4 linked regions of the Homo sapiens genome follow. The protein of the gene in region 4 purifies or fractionates together with the protein of the main gene of each other region. This does not show direct contact. Each region holds a gene or a part of one and is shown on either strand. Other genes may lie near its edges.

Region 1 (4,685 bases), on a different chromosome or scaffold from region 4:
GAGTTGGAGACCAGCCTGAGCAACATGGTGAAACCCCAGCTCTAAAAACAAAACAAAACAATAAAACAATAATTAGCTGTGTGTGGTGGCGTATGCCTGTACTCCCAGCTACTTGGGAGGCTGAAGTGGGAGGATCCCTTGAGCCCAGCAGGTTGAGACTGCAGTGAGCCATGACTGCACCACTGCACTCTAGCCTGGGTGACAGAGATGGATCCTGTCTCAAACAAACTAATTATTCAGGTAGGGCACGGTGGCTCACACCTGTAATCCCAGCACTTTGGGAGGCCAAGGGAAGCAGATCACCTGAGGTCAGGAGTTCGAGACCAGCCTGACCAACATGGTGAAACCCTGTCTCTACCTAAAACACAAAAAATTAGCCAGGCACGGTGGCGGGTGCCTGTAATCCCAGCTACTCAGGAGGCTGAAGCAGGAGAATCATTTGAAATCGGGAGACGGAGGTTGCAGTGAGGCAAGATCACACCACTGCACTCCAGCCTGGGCAACAGAGCGAGACCCCATCTGTCTCAAAACAAACAAACAAAACAAAGTCAGCCGGGCGCAGTGGCCCACGCCTGTAATCCCAGCACTCTGGGAGGCTGAGGCAGGAGAATCACCTGAGGTCAGGAGTTCCAGACCAGCCTGGCCAACGTGGTGAAACCCCGTCTCTACTAAAAATACAAAAATTAGCAGGGTATGGTAGCAGGCATCTTAATCCCAGCTACTCAGGAGGCTGAGGTCCGCGCTTGAACCCAGGAGGCAGAGGTTACAGTGAGCCGAGATCGCGCCATTGCACTCAGCCTGGCCGACAGAGTGAGACTCCCTCTCAAAATAACAGTAGTAATAAATAAATAAAGTCGTTGCTTGCAGGCTGTACAAAAAAAGGCAGCAACTGGACTTGGCCCCTAACTCATAGTTTGCCAAAACTCTGCTCTAAAGTTTGCTTGCTTCATTCACTTCTCAGAGCCTGGCCCTGGGAGCCGCCTATCCCAGTCCTCATCCCACATGGCCAGCGTTCTCCTACCTTCAATGATCTTTGCTGCAAACTCTCGGATAGACTTGAGGGAAGCCAAGTCCAGGTGCCGGGCGTTGACATGGTGATTGAGGGTCTCCCCGCGGATGTCCTTTGCTGCCGCCTCACACTTCTCCATGTCTCGGCAGGCCAGGATGATGTTGCCTCCTGAAAACCCAGGATGGAAAAAGATTTAAATTAATAATCCACTCCTGGGTACTGACCCCAGAGACATGAAAACATACGTCTACACAAAAACACATCCACCAATGTTCACTGCGGCATTCTTCACAAAAGCCAAAAGGTAGAAACAACCAAATGCCCATCTGTGGATGAAGGGACAACAAAATGTGGTCCATCCATAGAGATGGAATATTAGACGGCCGTGAAAAGGAGTGAAGCACTGGCTCATGCTACAGCAAGGATGACCGTCAGAAACACTGTGCTCGGGGAAAGAAACCAGACACGAAAGACCACACAGCGTACAATCCCATTTACATGAATTCTATGTATATGATTTCACACCTATGAAACGCCCAGAATAGGCAAATCCATAGAGAAAGAAAATAGATTCTTGGTTTTCTAGGGCAGGGGGTGGGGAGAGGGAATTACAGCTTGATAGTTACAGTGAGCAGGTTTCTTTCTAGGGTAACAGATGTTCTAAGATTGATTTTAAAGATGGTTGCATCATTCTGTGACTATACTAAACATCACTGAATTGGTCGGGCACGGTGGCTCACACCTGTAATTCCAGCACTTTGGGAGGCCAAGGCAAGAGGATTCCCCATCCTCTCCTTTTTTTTTTTTTTTTAGATGGAGTCTCACTCTGTCACCCAGGCTGGAGTGCGGTGGCGCAATCTCGGCTCACTGCAACCTCCACCTCCTGGGTTCAAGCAATTCTCCTGCCTCAGCCTCCCGAGTAGCTGGGATTACAGGCACCTACCACAACTAGCTAATTTTTTATTTTTTTATTTTTAGTAGAGACAGCGGTTTCACCATGTTAGCCAAGCTAGTCTTGAACTTCTGACCTCAGGTGATCCACCCCGCGGCCTCCCAAAGTACTGGGATTACAAATAAGCCACAATGCCCAGCCTCCAATTTTTTTTGTTGTGGTAAAATACAAATCACTTAAAATTTATCATCTTAACCCCCTTTTCTTTTTGTTTATTATTATTTTTTTTTTTTTGAGTCAGTCTCACTCTGCTGCCGCGGCTGGAGTGCTGGCGCCATCACAGCTCATTCAGCCTTGAACTCCTAGGCTCAAGTGACCTGGGACTATAGGTACCACCTGTGCCAGCATGCCTGGCTAACTCTGGTAGAGATGGGGGTGTTGCTATGGTGTCCAGGCTGGTCTGGAACCCCTGGCCTCAAGTGATCCTCCTGCCTCAGCCTCCAAAAGTGCTGGAATTATAGATGTGAGCCACCGAGACCCGCCCTCTTAGCCATTTTTAAGTGTCCAGTTCATTGGTATTAAAAACATTTATGGCTGGGCCGGGCATGGTGGCTCACACCTGTAATCCCAGCACTTTGGGAGACCAAGGCAGGTGGATCACCTGAGGTCAGGAGTTCAAGACCAGCCTGGCCAACACATTACAAACTTAGCTGGGTGTGGTGTTGCATGCCTGTAATCCCAGCTACTCGGGTGGCTGAGGCAGGAGAATTGCTTGAACCCGGGAGGCGAAGGTTGCAGTGAGCCAAGATCATGCCACTGCACTCCAGCCTGGGCGACAAGAGCAAAACTCCATCTCAAAAAAAAAAAAACAATAATAATAATTCCTAATGTTGTGCAACCATTACAACCATCCATCTCTCAAATTGTTTCATCTTGCCAAACTAAACTTCCGTTTCCATTAAACAGTAACTCCCCATTCTCCCCTCCCCTCCTGACCCCTGGCAAGCACCATTCCAACTTCTCTATGAATTTAACTGTAGGTAGCTCCTGTAAGTGGAATCATACCGTATTTGCTCTTCTGTCGACTGGCTTATTTCACTTCATGGAATGTCCTCAAGGTTCATCTGTTTCAATGCCCTTTTTTTTGTTTTGCTTTGTTTTGTTTTGTTTTTGAGTCTCACTCTGTCACCCAGGCTGGAGTGCCGTGGCGCCATCTCTGCTCACTGCAACCCCTGCCTCTCAGGTTCAAGCGATTCTCCTGCTTCAGCCTCCCAAGCAGCTGGGACTACAGGTGCCCACCACAACTCCTGGCTAATTTTTGTATTTTTAGTAGAGAGGGGGTTTCACCATGTTGGTTAGGCTGGTCTCGAACTCCTGACCTCGTGATCCGCCAGCTTTGGCCTCCCAAAGTACTGATTACAGGCGTGCACCACCGCGCCCGGCCAGAATGCCCTTCCTTTTTAAGGCTGAATCATATGCCCCTGTCTATAGAAGCCACATTCTGTTTCCCTGTTCATCTGTGGATGGGTGCCTGGGTTCCTTCCACCTCCGGACTGTGAATAATGCTGCAGTGAGCATGGATGTACAGATATCTCTCTGAGAGCCAAAGCAGGGGAGATTTTACCTCTCCTGGCCAGTTCCAAGGCGGTCTGCTTCCCGATGCCTGTGTTGGCACCCGTCACGATGACCGTCTTCCCAGGGATGGTGGCCTTGCTGGGGCAAGCCCCACCGGTGACATAGTCCCTGAGGGTGAGAAGCGGCACGGTCAGTCCTGTGGGCCCACTCTCACCCCACGTGCCCCTGACTGAATGATCTCAGGCAACCTTGTCTGAGCTCACTCACATACCCCAACTGAAACACAGACATCATCACATCACACCAAGGGACCTCTGTCATGTTCTCCATAAGTGGCTCCACCCAGTGTCTGGCGTGTGGAACGCCTTCAGCAAGTGACAGTCATTATTTTATAAATGCTCACTGCATGAGATTCCCGGCCAGGTGAGGGGGCTTGCACCTGTAATCCCAGCACTTTGGGAGGCCAAAGTTTTGGGGGTGGGGGGGGGCGGGGGCGGATCACTTGAGGTCAGGAGTTCGAGTCCAGCCTGGCAAACATGGCGAGACCCCGTCTCTACTTAAAATACAAAAATTAGCCAGATGTGTAGGGAAAAGAGAGATTAGACTGTTACTGTGTCTATATAGAAAGGAAAGACATAAGAGACTCCATTTTGAAAAAGACCTGTACTTTGAACAATTGCTTTGCTGAGATGTTGTTAATTTGTAGCTTTGACCCAGCCACTTTGACCCAATCTGGAGCTCACAAAAACCTGTGTTGTATGAAATCAAGGTTTAAGGGATCTAGGGCTGTGCAGGAAGTGCCTTGTTAACACAATGTTTCCAAGCAGTATACTTGGTAAAAGTCATCGCCAGTCTCTAGTCTCAATAAACCAGGGGCACGATGCACTGCAGAAAGCTGCAGGGACCTCTGCCCTTGAACACAGAGTATTGTCCAAGGTTTCTCCCCGTGGGATAGTCTGAAATATGGCCTCGTGGGATGAGAAAGACCTGACCGTCCCCCAGCCCAACACCCGTAAAGGGTCTGTGCTGAGGTGGATTGGTAAAAGAGGAAAGCCTCTTGCAGTTGAGAGAGAGGAAGGCCACTGTCTCCTGCCTGACCCTGGGAACTGAATGTCTCGGTATAAAACCTGATTGTACATTTGTTCAATTCTGAGACAGGAGAAAAGCCGCCCTATGGCGGGAGGCGAGACATGTTTACAGCAATGCTGC
Region 2 (4,685 bases), on a different chromosome or scaffold from region 4:
CTTCTGGTATTCCCTTAAACAGACACAAATATGCCCTCACACCTACACCCACAGTAAATTAAGTCGCTGAAGGAAATTACTATCATATAATGCTTCTGTATTTCTCTTTAATGGAGCATGTAGAACACCTTTTCCCTACACATAATAGGATTAATATTTAAAAGCATCATCTTCAGCCAAGTGCAAACCTTTGTCTGCCCTCAGGGAAAGACTAGCCAATGAGAGGTTATTCTGGTGATGTAATGCTTGTTACCTTGCTCTCTTTCAGGCATGATTGGGGAAGATGCTTTTCAGAACATCAAACATGAATAGAATTTAACTCTTTCTCACATGACTAATTTTAGCACATAAGCCACCTGCAGTATTTCATAAATGTGTTGCTTAAGATCGCCCTGAAATAGTTATGCAAAATCATTAGAGTAGAGAATTTTTGTTAAGCATTGACATCTGTATCCACTGGCACTTGCCAATAGCTCCCCACCTTTCTTGAGAGATCACTTACTTCTGTATCCTGATCCTTACGTAAATGGGCAAAGAATATATTAACACTAGCCAGCAGCAGATAAGCTTATTATTTCCTTCTCAGACACAGATACTCATGAAAATCAAATCAAAAGGAATAGAAACCTAATATGTGTTTTCCAAAGTCAAATTAATCACTCTGTCTCTCATGACCATATACAGGGTTTATCTTCATATCCATATACTTTATTTCAAAAACAAAAAAGATTTAAGCAAGTATTTTAATAACCAGGTGTGTTTACAATGATATTATAATCTTCTGCCTCGTGAATAATTTTCAGATCTCTATTGATGCTACTAAATGTTTATTAATGTTCAGAGAAGCCCTAGCCCAGATCAGGTGAAGACCTATTACCCCTTACATAGCCTGATTCTATGAAAACTGATAGGCAGGACAGGGTGAATATGTGTTGGTTTCCACCAGCGAAGTATGCAAAAATGCAGACACTGAGCTAAAAAATTTCCGGCGGATATTATTTCATGTAGTATCTCATTCCCATTCCCTCCTCCTCCACCCAAACCTCACTTTTTGAGCAAAAGAATGCAATAGTAAGCATGTTGTCTGAAAAACATAATTTGGAAGAGGAAGATAATGATACCTGAGCATACCAGTGGTTTATCTGATCTGACACCAGGAATAAAGCAACTCAGACTGCTAAGCCAGCTGTGTAATTTGAAGTGTAATATGTAGTTCAGAGATGATGAGCTATGAGAACTTATAGTCAAAATGTTGGAAAATTAATATATTAGAATCTTTTCCTCTTCATTTCTTTTTTCCAGAATATCCTGCTAACACTTTGAGAAAACTGAGTTAATTTTTGGCACTTGAGCCATTCTTTGGACTTTTCTACTCGTTTAGGTCATGATAATACAGTTGCATTGGAATGGGGTGAAATTATGGGATTATAGAGCATTTCAAACCTGGCTGTGAATAATGTCTGTACATATAGGAGAGTGATAAGTCACTGTAACTTCACTGAGCCACAGTTTCCTCATCTATTAAAATGAAATAATTAAATATTAATTATTAAAACAGCATAATTCTTGGCAAGTAATTAATAAGTACTCAATTGATAGTAGCTATGGTTTTTACTATTTTTTTCATAGACAAATAATATCAAAGCTGCTTTACCTTTCAAAGTTAGAAACCAAACTATATAAAAATAATTTTATACCCACAATAGGTTTTCTGATATAACAAATTGTATGCCACTTTTAAATTTTGAAATAAATCATTTTGTTTTCCATTGAAGATTCAATTTGCACTTGATTTTTACTTTCCCATATTATTTAGCAGAATTTTATTTTTATATATTAATATTTCAAAGTTAGTGCTTTACAAATATATGACTTTGTGTTCTATTAGTATAAATGGTAGTAGTAGTGTAAATAGTAGTAGTACTGTAAGTAGTAGTAGCAGCAGCAGCAGCAGCAGTAGCAGTAGCAGTAGCAGTAGCAGTAGCATAAATGTTACTTCTAAAGACCTGCCAAGTTTTAAACGCATTGCTTCTCCAGTGCTTGAGAAAAGGTCCTGGAAGGCATTTCTCAGGCCATTAAGTCAGCTTATTGAAAAGTGGAAAATGCAGTTTATCACCCTAAAGCAAAATGAGTAGCTCAAGTTTTTCAGTAAATTAGCTTAAACTAAATTGATATTGTTTACATCCAGTGAAAAGCACTGACACATTTCTGCAAATTGATTTTAGATTTTAAGTAAGGGCAATTTAAGTTCACTTTCTCAAAATCTGCTTAGTGCCTAACCTGTGTATGGAGATATTCTAAGATTAAAAACAACCACCACAATGACTTGGCTTCTGCCTTCTAGATGCTGATGTCTAGTTAAGGGAACAGACAGTGCACAGTGTCTTAAGTTCCATAATGGAGGTAGGTATAAAATTATTGGAAATATAGATGGTGGGGCTTTCAATTCAACACTGGAGGAATGAGTTTTTCAGAAAAATTGTAGACAGGTGACATTTCATTGGCTTTCAGGAAATAATGAGTTTCTTGTTTGGATAAGATGGAATAATGATCCAGGTAGAAGGAACAGTTAGAGCAAAGGAAGAAAGGACTAAAAATTCATAGCTGTTTATTGAATGGCTATTGACCCATTCTAATGTTTCTATAGAATAGAATGCATTAGATGGAAATGTGGCAATGGAAAGGTTGTGCTTTCTGTATAGAGACGCTGTTTGGAAAACTGAAATATTACCTTCCAAATCATAGTATTCTTATATTTTCTTTATAGCATCCCATCAGAAAATTCATAACACATGTTAACTATATATATTTTGTGATGTATTTAAGCTTACTGGACCTTTCTTCAAGTAAAACAATGTTATTCCTTTGCTTTTCCTCAGATTTAAAAAATTATTCCAATGTACTATTCACTTCAAATAAAGTAAAGGTAAATCCCACAAATCATCCTTCAAAAGGGCGACATAAGTTGTGCAAAAATAATACTAAAGATATAGACAACATCTATTTATTTTGATTCATGCAGAAGTCTATATGAGCTAATTGTAAAAGGCAATACATCTAAATAGCATGTGGTTAATAATGTCAGATTATGCATTAAAGAAATATTGTCTATGCTAACTTTTTACTAAAAGTTATTTGGAAAAACTTCATTGCTCTTATTCACACAGTAAACCACCATACCATCAAGTAAATGAATGCAGTAAGTCATTCACCTTTCATACTGTGGGTGTGAAAACATTCTTAAATAAAACTTGCTGAGAGTTATCTGCCATTTTCTTTAAGTATACAGATTCTCCATGACTTATGATGGGGTTACATCCCGGTAATCCTAAGTTGAAAATATCATTAGGTCAGAAATGCATTTAATACACCAAAGATCATACCTTAGTCTAGGCTACCATAAACATGCTCAGAACACTTACATTAGCCTATATTTGGACAAATAATCTCATAATGCAGTACATTGTAGAGTATTGGTTGATCATGGTTGTTCACCTTTGTGATCTCATGGCTGACTGGGAGCTTTGGCTTATTACCACTACTCAGCATCTTGAGAAGTATCGTATCACATATCACTAGCTGGGAGAAAGGTCACAATTCAAAATTTGAAGTATAGTTCCCACTGAATCTGTATGGCTTTTACACAGTTGAAAAATCAAAAAATTATAAGTGAAACCATTGCAAGCTGGGGACCATCTGTATTCACTGAATAAGTTCCCATACCTCTGAACAGGACTATGTATGTGTTCATAATTCAAGTATATTTAGTGATACTTACTAGACTTGAATTGAAATGTATTATCCACACATACATTGTGATATTGTTATAACAGGAATAATTCTATTTAATAAATGGTATGTGCTCAACTTTCTATATTCTATGTCCCTGTGTCCCTTTTGTGACCAGTATCATGTATTTTAGAATTAGTTAACTAGAATTACAGGTAACTGGGTCAATCATGGGTTTCATTATGTAAAACAAACTGAGCTGCATGGAGCTTGAACCTAGGTGTCGGTCCATTTTGGTCTTTCTGTCCACCTTAGATATCATCCACAGAAGTATTCGTCTAAGTGAGTGTGAGCGTGTGTGTGTGTGTGTGTGTGTGTGTCTGTTTATTACAGCCTACTTGATTCTAAAAATGATTTGTATATATAATGAAGAATCACTATATTCAGCATGTTTAAAAATATTAAAATCTCAGATATTTTAAAATAAAGAATATCTGTTTGTTTTTTTTCCTCATCAGCTGTTAAAAAGAAAGCTGGCTTTATCACTCCAGTTCCAGGAGGTGTGGGACCCATGACAGTGGCAATGCTTCTGAAGAACACCCTTCTGGCAGCTAAAAAAATCATTTACTAGATCACATGAAAGGATAAAGCAAACTGAAGTCATGCTATTTGTTTATTTGACAAAGGGTAAAACCTTTATATTTTACTACAAAGCTATTTATTTCTACATGGTATTTATTTTTTCATGGGTGAAATCATTGTGAATCAATTGATTCACATAGTTTTATGCATTTCCTGCTAATTTATTTTGAGTTTTAAGAAAACAACCAAAACAATTCCAATGAAAATTTTAGTAACAATTGTTTATTTTGAGGGTATTTGTTCATAACATTAAAACAATAAAGGGCTCATAATAAATAAATATATTTTTGACACAATTAAATATTACATAGAGT
Region 3 (4,685 bases), on a different chromosome or scaffold from region 4:
CACGCCATTGCACTCCAGCCTGGGCGACAGAGCGAGACTCCGTCTCAAAAAAAAAAGAATGCTGAAACCAAAAAATAATAGCTTTCAGATAATCCCCACAGCATCTATGAGATGGATTCCTACTTTATCAATGAGAAAATACACTGAGAAACTGCCTCAATGTCAAATACTAAGAATCAGAGCCAGGGTTTGAACCCAGATCTAACTTCAAAGCCAGTATCCTTAGCTTATCTTCTCTTCCCGCCACCCGCACGCCTAGGCGCAGAATCGAAAACCTCAGCCCCCAGAATGTATCATTTGGCAGCTGAGAAGAAGAATGGAAAGGCTTGAAACTCTGAGATTCAAACTGGGATATCGTAGACCCTGGAGCAGGACACTGCATGTAGCTGAGGGCTCTCTAGAGTCCCTAGCACGGAGCTTGGAAGGGATGCACTTGGCCTGTGTGGTTTAATGAGCGACCTTTGCCCTCTCTCTCCTGCAGGTCTCCCATGTCCGTATGCAGGGGATCCTCTTACTGGTCTTTGCCAAGTATCAGCATTTGCCCTATATCCAGATTCTGTCTACTAAATCCACCCCCACTGGCCTGTTTGGGTACTGGGTAAGGACTGAGCTATTGTCTGAGTCGTGAGCTGGGAAGGGCTGGGAACTGTGGAGCTGGGCAAAAGAAAAAGGAAGTGAAAGGAATCTTGGTCCTCTGTCCAGCCCAATGCATGTTTGTTCTTTTGCCTCAGAGTGGGCTTGCTATCCCTGAGGCCAGGCGAGGCGAGCTGGGCTCTGTGCATGGAGAGATCACCCTGGGAAGCTTAGTTACTGTCCCTAGGAGACCCTGCAGGAAGTGAGACTGTCTGCCCTCAGGTCCAGGATGTGGAAAGAGGGGTGTGTCCAACCCGAGTAGCTTCCCACTCTTCTGTTGACCTGTTCTACCAGGGGAACAAAGGTGGAGTCAACATCTGCCTGAAGCTTTATGGCTACTATGTCAGCATCATCAACTGCCACCTGCCTCCCCACATTTCCAACAATTACCAGCGGCTGGAGCACTTTGACCGGATCCTGGAGATGCAGAATTGTGAGGGGCGAGACATCCCAAACATCCTGGACCACGAGTGAGCCTGGGTCTGGCAGACCGTTCCCCGCCCTCTGCCCCACGCTAACCCCCACTAACCCCCACGAGTGAGCCTGGGTCTGCAGACCGCTCCCCGCCCTCTGCCCCACGCTGACCCCCACGAGTGAGCCTGGGTCTGCAGACTGTTCCCCGCCCTCTGCCCCACGCTGACCGCCACGAGTGAGCCTGGGTCTGCAGACTGTTCCCCGCCCTCTGCCCCACGCTGACCCCCACGAGTGAGCCTGGGTCTGCAGACCGTTCCCCGCCCTCTGCCCCACGCTGACCGCCACGAGTGAGCCTGGGTCTGCAGACCGTTCCCCGCCCTCTGCCCCACGCTGACCCCCACGAGTGAGCCTGGGTCTGCAGACTGTTCCCCGCCCTCTGCCCCAGCTGACCGCCACGAGTGAGCCTGGGTCTGCAGACTGTTCCCCGCCCTCTGCCCCACGCTAACCCAAGCCAGCATCCTCTGCTCCATCACGGATCCCCCAGCCAGTGTCGTCAGTGTTCTGGCTCCCACCCTCTCCCTGACCCTTCCCTGGTGCCCATCTGCTGTCTCCCCTTGCTTTGCCTGCCTGGGGTCCCCTTCCTCCAGCCCGTCTGTCTTGCTTAGAAACCCTGAACACTTGGGAACAGGTCAAGGACCTTGTGGCTCCTGAGGTCACCAGGAGGGCTTCTCAGCCTTTCCTCGTGACCAGTTAAGGAGAGGAAGGAAGGGCCACAGCCTGCTCTGTGTTTGCCAGAGCAGGCTCTTTGGTAGGTCTCTCCGGTTTGAATGGTGGTTTAGGAGCCATGAGAACAGTTCCAGAGGACCCACGCGTGCCCTGGCGTCTCACTTGCCCCTCAGGTTTTCTGTGCCCCAGCAGCCCTTGGGTTGAGCAGGCTGAGCCACCTGGTGATCTCCCTTCCCCGACTTCATCACAAATCCTCAGGCTGCCCTCCTTTTTTTCTGAAGCCTCATTATCTGGTTTGGAGACATGAACTTTCGGATCGAGGACTTTGGGTTGCACTTTGTTCGGGAATCCATTAAAAATCGGTGCTACGGTGGCCTGTGGGAGAAGGACCAGGTATCCAGTGAGGGGAGGGTCCCAGGGGGTGATCTGAGCCCACGGTGGGGGCCATGTGAGCTGTGCAGAGTGTTGCTAGATGCCCTCGCTGCTGTTTTCTTTTGCCCAGGTCTGGTGGGGGAGGCTGTCTAGCAGGGCTTCGCATCCAGGGGTGAGGCAGCCACGCCTGATCTTCACATGGAAAAGCCAGGGTAACAGACCCTGGATGTGCTTTAGAATAGAGAGTCAGATACAAAGCATGAAATGAATTATTTAAAAAAGAAGAATAGGGGCCGGGCACGGTGGCTTATGCCTGTAATTCCAGCACTCTGGGAGGCCGAGGTGGGTGGATCACCTGAGGTCGGGGGTTTGAGACCAGCCTGACCAACTTGGAGAAACCTCATCTCTACTAAAAATACAAAAAAAAATTCGCCGGGCGTGGTGGCACGTGCCTGTAATCCCAGCTACTCGGGAGGCTGAGGTAGGGGAATCGCTTGAACCCGGGAGGCAGAGGTTGCAGTGAGCAGAGATAGCGCCATTGCACTCCAGCCTGGGCAACAAAAGCAAAACTCCATCTCAAAAAAAAAAAAAGAAGAAGAATAGGGAACCAGAAGGGCTTTGCACCAGGTACCATCATGCGTCAGCCCATCGTGTCCCTGTCGTCTTTCCCATCCCCAGCCTCGTTTCCCTCTTGGAGGGTGAGGTGCCCCTTTGGAGAACCCTGGCTTCCCCAGGTTCCCCTCTGACACATGTCTGCTAGTGATCTCCCCTAGAGATGGAATTCCAAGTTGGGTCCCTGCAGTCTAAGGACTGGGAAACGGCAGACAGCTGCCTCCCCTGGGCCTTGGTAATGTTTCCGAAAGGATTCGCCTGCTTTCTGGTGGGAGTGGGCTGCTGAGTAGTCACTGGGGCAGTGAGGAATTGGAGTGGCATTGCTTGACTCTTGCCCCATTTGTGACGGCATGTGCTGATCCCTTGAATGGAGTGTGGTACTGGGCCACTGGGTCGAGACTACTGGGAGACGGGGACTATGACTTTGTCTGCAGCTCAGCATTGCCAAGAAACATGACCCGCTGCTCCGGGAGTTCCAGGAGGGCCGCCTACTCTTCCCGCCCACCTACAAGTTTGATAGGAACTCCAACGACTATGACACCAGGTGAGGAGGGAGTGGGGGGCCAGAAGGTCTAGGAAGTCAGGTTACACTGACCCTGCTGGCATGGGAACTGTCTCAGAATAGAAGTGTTAGGGGGGGCAGGAATTGGTCTAGTCATCCCCTCTCCAGAGTGGCACCTCCTGTCCACTTCATGAGGCGCTGACTCGGGGAGCCGTCCCAGATCTCGAGAGAGTGGGAGGAAAGCCAGTGCCAGCAAGGGCAGGAGAGGTGTGTAGGGGGTGGGGGTGTTACAGATAGAACCAGAGGAGAGGGTGGAGCAGCTGCCTCCTGACCTAGGAGGGACTGCACTTCAGCTTCGGGAAACCCCAGACCTTCTGGTCCCCAAACGGGGCAGAAAGCTTGGCCCAGCCAGTTACTGGTATTAAGGACGCCTGCCCCAGCCTGTGAATGGGTCAGGTCTTGTGTGAGAAGGTGAAGTAGTAGGTAGAGAGTTTCATCAGGATCAGTGTAGAGATCATGAGTCTGGTAGTTAGAAGCACGGCTCTGTCTTATTTTAGCCAAAGCGTTTAGGCCTTGATTTTGTCAGCTATAAGGTGTGGATGAGAAGAGCACACACCTCATGAGGCTGAGGACTGAAGGAGGCCGTCACCCAGTAACCATGGGAGAGAACGGCTATTGTGACTTTTCGATTCATGCCGGCTGGGCGCGGTGGCTCACACCTGTAATCCCAGCACTTTGGGAGGGCCGAGGCAGGTGGATCACTGAAGGTCAGGAGTTTGAGACCAGCCTGACCAACATGGTAAAACCCCATCTCTACTAAAAATTCAAAAATTAGCTGGGCATGGTAGCGCGCACCTGTAATCCCAGCTACTCAGGAAGCTGAGGCAGGAGAATTGCTTGAACCCAAGAGGCAGAGGTTGCCGTGAGCCGAGATCTCACCGCTGCACTCCAGCCTGGGTGACAGAGCGAGACTCCGTCTCAAAAAAATAATAATAAAATAAATAGATTCATGTCTTCCCGTGATAGATTTACTAAAAACCTTTCTAAGAAGCTGAGAAGGGGCCAAATAACCACCAAAACCTGAGAAAGAACCACTGGCAACATGTCCCTGACTCATTTTGGGGCAAGGAACCTAATCTCTTTGAAGAAAAGAAGAGCCCCTTACATGTCATGAGGGTCTTTGTTCCAGCGGGAGCAGCTTGTTCATTCCTCCTAGCTGGAGTGTCTCTGTGAGGGAGGCGGGAGGTACCGGCAGGGCAGCCCAGGGCTTTGGGATTTAGCCAGGGAAGAAATATCTCCACAGCCAGACCAAGACAAGAGGTAGAACTCAAGCTTGGTTCTGGAAGTGTTACAGCAAAGCCAAAATATCCTTGTCAAGGAAAGGGGGAAAGAGTGAGCCGATTCAGCAGTGTGGAGCAAGACAGGG
Region 4 (3,500 bases):
TTGGTCTTCTAGAAGGCTTTGTTGAACTGTCTAACATGCCGTTCAGGGGCTGGGCTGGATTTCCTGCTAAAAGGGTCAGAGGACCAGACATGGTGGCTCACTCCTGTAATCCCAGCACTGTGGGAGGCCAAGGCAGGCGGATCACTTGAGCTCAGGAGTGACTCCTGAGACCAGCCTGGGCAACATGACGAAACTCTGTCTCTACAAAAAATAAGCTGGGTGTGGTAGTGCAAGCCTGTAGTCCCAGCTACCCAGGAGGCTGAGGTGGGAGGACTGCTTGAGCCCATGAGGTCAAGGCTGCAGGGTATTGTGATTTTGCCACTGCACTCCAGCCTGGATGACAGAGTGAGACCTTATTTCAAAAAAAAGTAGCCAGGGTTGGGGGGGCAGTCAGAGGACTGTATGAAATTAAGGGGCTTACAGGGGACAGTTTCAGTGTCTTTGCTCCTGGAAGTAAAGATGGCAACTTCCTCATAGTTTTAACCTGGGGTACTTTACTTTTGATGTACACATTGCAATAGCATGAGGCTTCCATAGAGTCTTCAGTTTCGGAGATGTCAGCCAGGCTCCCCATGGTAACATGTTAGCTCTTGTCACCTCCCCTCAAGTCTGAACTGTAACAGAGCTGGAGAAGCAACCACAGTTTATGGTGGCTGAGGCAGAAAAGCCAGGAAGAGCCTGAGTGTGAAAGAGCTTGGAAGTGCAGAAGAAGATACCACATTATTCTGTCATATTTCCAGCAGCAAAGTCATCTTGAATATACCCGTCTTTCCTTCAGATTATTCCGGCTGGGCATGGTGACTTGTGCCTATAATCCCAGGTACTCAGGAGGCCGGGGCAGGAGGATCGTTGGAGCCCAAGAGTTCAGTGTCAGCCTGGACAACATAGCAAGACTCTATCTCTGAAAAAAAAACAACAACAAACTTTTAAAAATTATTCTTATGTGTTCAGAATGGTTAACAATATAAAGGAGACATGGCAGTCAGCATCCTCAAACTGGTTGACTTAGCGTTTCCCAATCGCCTTTACCCTAATGGTCGAGTCTGAGAGTGGAGATTAATCTAAGCCATGTTTTTGAGGGATTGAGGCGTTTTACAGTCTCGGCTTACTGACCATTGTCATTCGTGTTTGGTGTCTCTAGGAGTGAGCTGTTGCCGCAGAATGGGCTGCTGGCTCCTGCCCTGCTTCCTGTGATCGAGCCGGCCCTGAGGACTCTGTGGAGATGCCTGTAACCCACCGGAAATCAGACGCATCTGACATGAACTCAGACACGTCCCCCAGCTGCAGGCTCCGAGCCTTCAGCAGAGGCGGCAGCCTGGAGAGTCGAAGCAGCAGCTCTCGCTCCAGAAGCTTCACTTTGGTGAGTGACAGTTTTTCTTTCATGCTTTCCTGTGCCTGGGTCAGTGGATTTTGCCTCAATCCCTCTCCCTTGAAGGAATATTTTACCAGATCTTTTTGGGTCAACTAGCTTGATGTTCTGGAATACTTCTTTGTGAAGTGGTTCTTTATTTTTAATCATCTTAAATTTTGCACAAATACAGAGCATTACCCATAGCCATGGAGCAAATCCCTCGCTGTGGCCAGTAACTCATGGCTGCTTAGACGTAGATAGGACCAGGCCCGGGGCAGAAACCAACCCAGGCAGGAGCGCTGCTGAAGAGCTCACACGATAAACACAGTTGACTCTTTTTTTTGAGACAGAGTCTCACTCTGTCCTCCAGTGGCGCGATCTTGGCTCACTGCAACCTCCGCCTCCCAACTTCAAGCAGTTCTCCTGCCTCAGCCTCCCAAGTACTGGGATTACAGGCTCGTGCCACCACACCCGGCTATTTTTTTTTTTTTTTTTTTTTTTTGGTATTTTTAGTAGAGACAGGGTTTCACCATGTTGGCCAGGCTGATCTCGAACTCCGCCCACCTCAGCTTCCCAAAGTGCTGGGATTATAGGCGTGAGCCACCGCGCCAGGCCTCCCAAAGTGCTGGGATTATAGGCGTGAGCCACCGCGCCCGGCCACTCAAGCTGATGTTTCACTCCTGTGCAAGTAAAGATGCTTTTGTATCCTTCTCAGAATCCAGACCTTTGCATAGCTTTGGGAACTTTACAAAAAGAGTTGGTGAAGTTAAGAGGATCTCGTGCCTTCCCCGGTGAGGACATTCATCTTTCAAGAGAGGGGAGACCATGACACTCACTCCTAGAGGGAGGAGCACAGGAGAGAAATGGTCCCCCGGGCCTCACTAGGAACCATTGGGGGCACCTCTCAGGTCCTCTCCTTCCAGTGGGAACGCCAGTTTCCCTCAGATACACTGAGCCATAAAATTAGCCTCAGTTACGCTGAAGCTAGATATACTTGGTATGGGGTAGTTATTAGTAATGACAGAATTTTCTAGACCCCCACTTGCATATTTTCTTTTTTAAAACCATTATGGTAATATGTGATAAATATTATTTGATTGGCCGGGCACAGTGGCTCACGCCTGTAATCCCGGCACTTTGGGAGGCCAAGGCAGGTGGATAACCTGAGGTCAGGAGTTTGAGAACAGCCTGGCCAACATGGTGAAACCCCGTCTCTACTAAAAATACAAAAATTAGCCGGGCGTGGTGGTGGGCACCTGTAATCCCAGCTACTCGGGAGGCTGAGGCAGGAGAATCACTTGAACCAGGAGGCAGAGGTTGTAGTGAGCTGAAATCGCGCCACTGCACTCCAGGCTGGGCGACAGAACGAGACTCCATCTCAAAAGAAATGCCCAGCACCCAAGCAGCTCTGGTGCCAGCTTCTCCTTCCCTGGTGTTCTGTTAGTGTCCAGGTGGGGCGCCATTCCCCTTCATCCTGCCGCCACCATCTTGTTTGGATCCATGCTCCTCCTTCCATCTCCTTCGTTTCTCCGTAGACGTTTAAATTATTTTTTCTTTGATCGCTAAAGGTGAGGTGGTAAAAGGGAACATTCCTTCCTCCTCCCTACTGCACACATTTCTTAATTCTACCAGTTTTATGGGCATGAGTTTGATTTTAAATTAAAGGATTCCTGTTCTACCCAGTTCTTTCCTATCCGGTAAATCATCCAGTAGCACTCCCGTGGTATATGTGATGTCTCTCTGTCTGTTCCCTGCCGTGCCTGTCCCTGTATATCATAGGGTAGAATAATGGAAACAGCATTGTAAAGCCCACTCATAGGACGCCTATAATTAAGTTACGTCTACATGGTGTGTGTTTGGGATCACAGAATTCTGCTGCATATCCAGCCTTAGACCTGTTCTCCTCCTGATGTTGGAGGAATGTTCTGGTCGTGTTTCCTTGCCTTCCCCTCAGGCCTGTTAACTGTTTTCAGGCATTTTCCTCCAGGGACATTGAGCTAAGTTTACTTGTCATCTTATTATTTCACAGTTGTGTACTTTCCTTTAGAACTAGCAAAATGAGAAAATATGGCATTTAACTTTAAATGACAACTAAAGTGGTTTTCTGTTGTTTTTGTTTAAGACAAGGTCTTGCTCTGTCACCCAGGCT

Evidence for each region. The genes of interacting proteins can lie anywhere in the genome.
Region 1: the proteins of PROSER2 (region 4) and RDH13 purify together in Homo sapiens (affinity purification with mass spectrometry; 2 studies listed by BioGRID and IntAct, with this or other methods). This does not show direct contact.
Region 2: the proteins of PROSER2 (region 4) and MTHFD2L purify together in Homo sapiens (affinity purification with mass spectrometry; 2 studies listed by BioGRID and IntAct, with this or other methods). This does not show direct contact.
Region 3: the proteins of PROSER2 (region 4) and INPP5K purify together in Homo sapiens (affinity purification with mass spectrometry; 2 studies listed by BioGRID and IntAct, with this or other methods). This does not show direct contact.

The regions. Positions count from the first base shown.
Region 1 is NC_000019.10:55,055,632-55,060,316, forward strand, and holds part of RDH13 (retinol dehydrogenase 13 isoform 1 precursor), read right to left. Parts: intron 3,645-4,685; coding exon 3,526-3,644; intron 1,178-3,525; coding exon 1,022-1,177; intron 1-1,021. UniProt on the Homo sapiens protein: Retinol dehydrogenase with a clear preference for NADP. Oxidizes all-trans-retinol, but seems to reduce all-trans-retinal with much higher efficiency. Has no activity toward steroids.
Region 2 is NC_000004.12:74,297,450-74,302,134, forward strand, and holds part of MTHFD2L (bifunctional methylenetetrahydrofolate dehydrogenase/cyclohydrolase 2, mitochondrial), read left to right. Parts: intron 1-4,247; coding exon 4,248-4,360; 3' UTR 4,361-4,685. UniProt on the Homo sapiens protein: Bifunctional mitochondrial folate-interconverting enzyme that has both NAD/NADP-dependent methylenetetrahydrofolate dehydrogenase and methenyltetrahydrofolate cyclohydrolase activities.
Region 3 is NC_000017.11:1,505,596-1,510,280, reverse strand, and holds part of INPP5K (inositol polyphosphate 5-phosphatase K), read left to right. Parts: intron 1-481; coding exon 482-598; intron 599-927; coding exon 928-1,103; intron 1,104-2,054; coding exon 2,055-2,166; intron 2,167-3,191; coding exon 3,192-3,301; intron 3,302-4,685. UniProt on the Homo sapiens protein: Inositol 5-phosphatase which acts on inositol 1,4,5-trisphosphate, inositol 1,3,4,5-tetrakisphosphate, phosphatidylinositol 4,5-bisphosphate and phosphatidylinositol 3,4,5-trisphosphate.
Region 4 is NC_000010.11:11,850,856-11,854,355, forward strand, and holds part of PROSER2 (proline and serine-rich protein 2), read left to right. Parts: exon of another isoform or gene 1-901; intron 902-1,141; 5' UTR 1,142-1,222; coding exon 1,223-1,360; intron 1,361-3,500.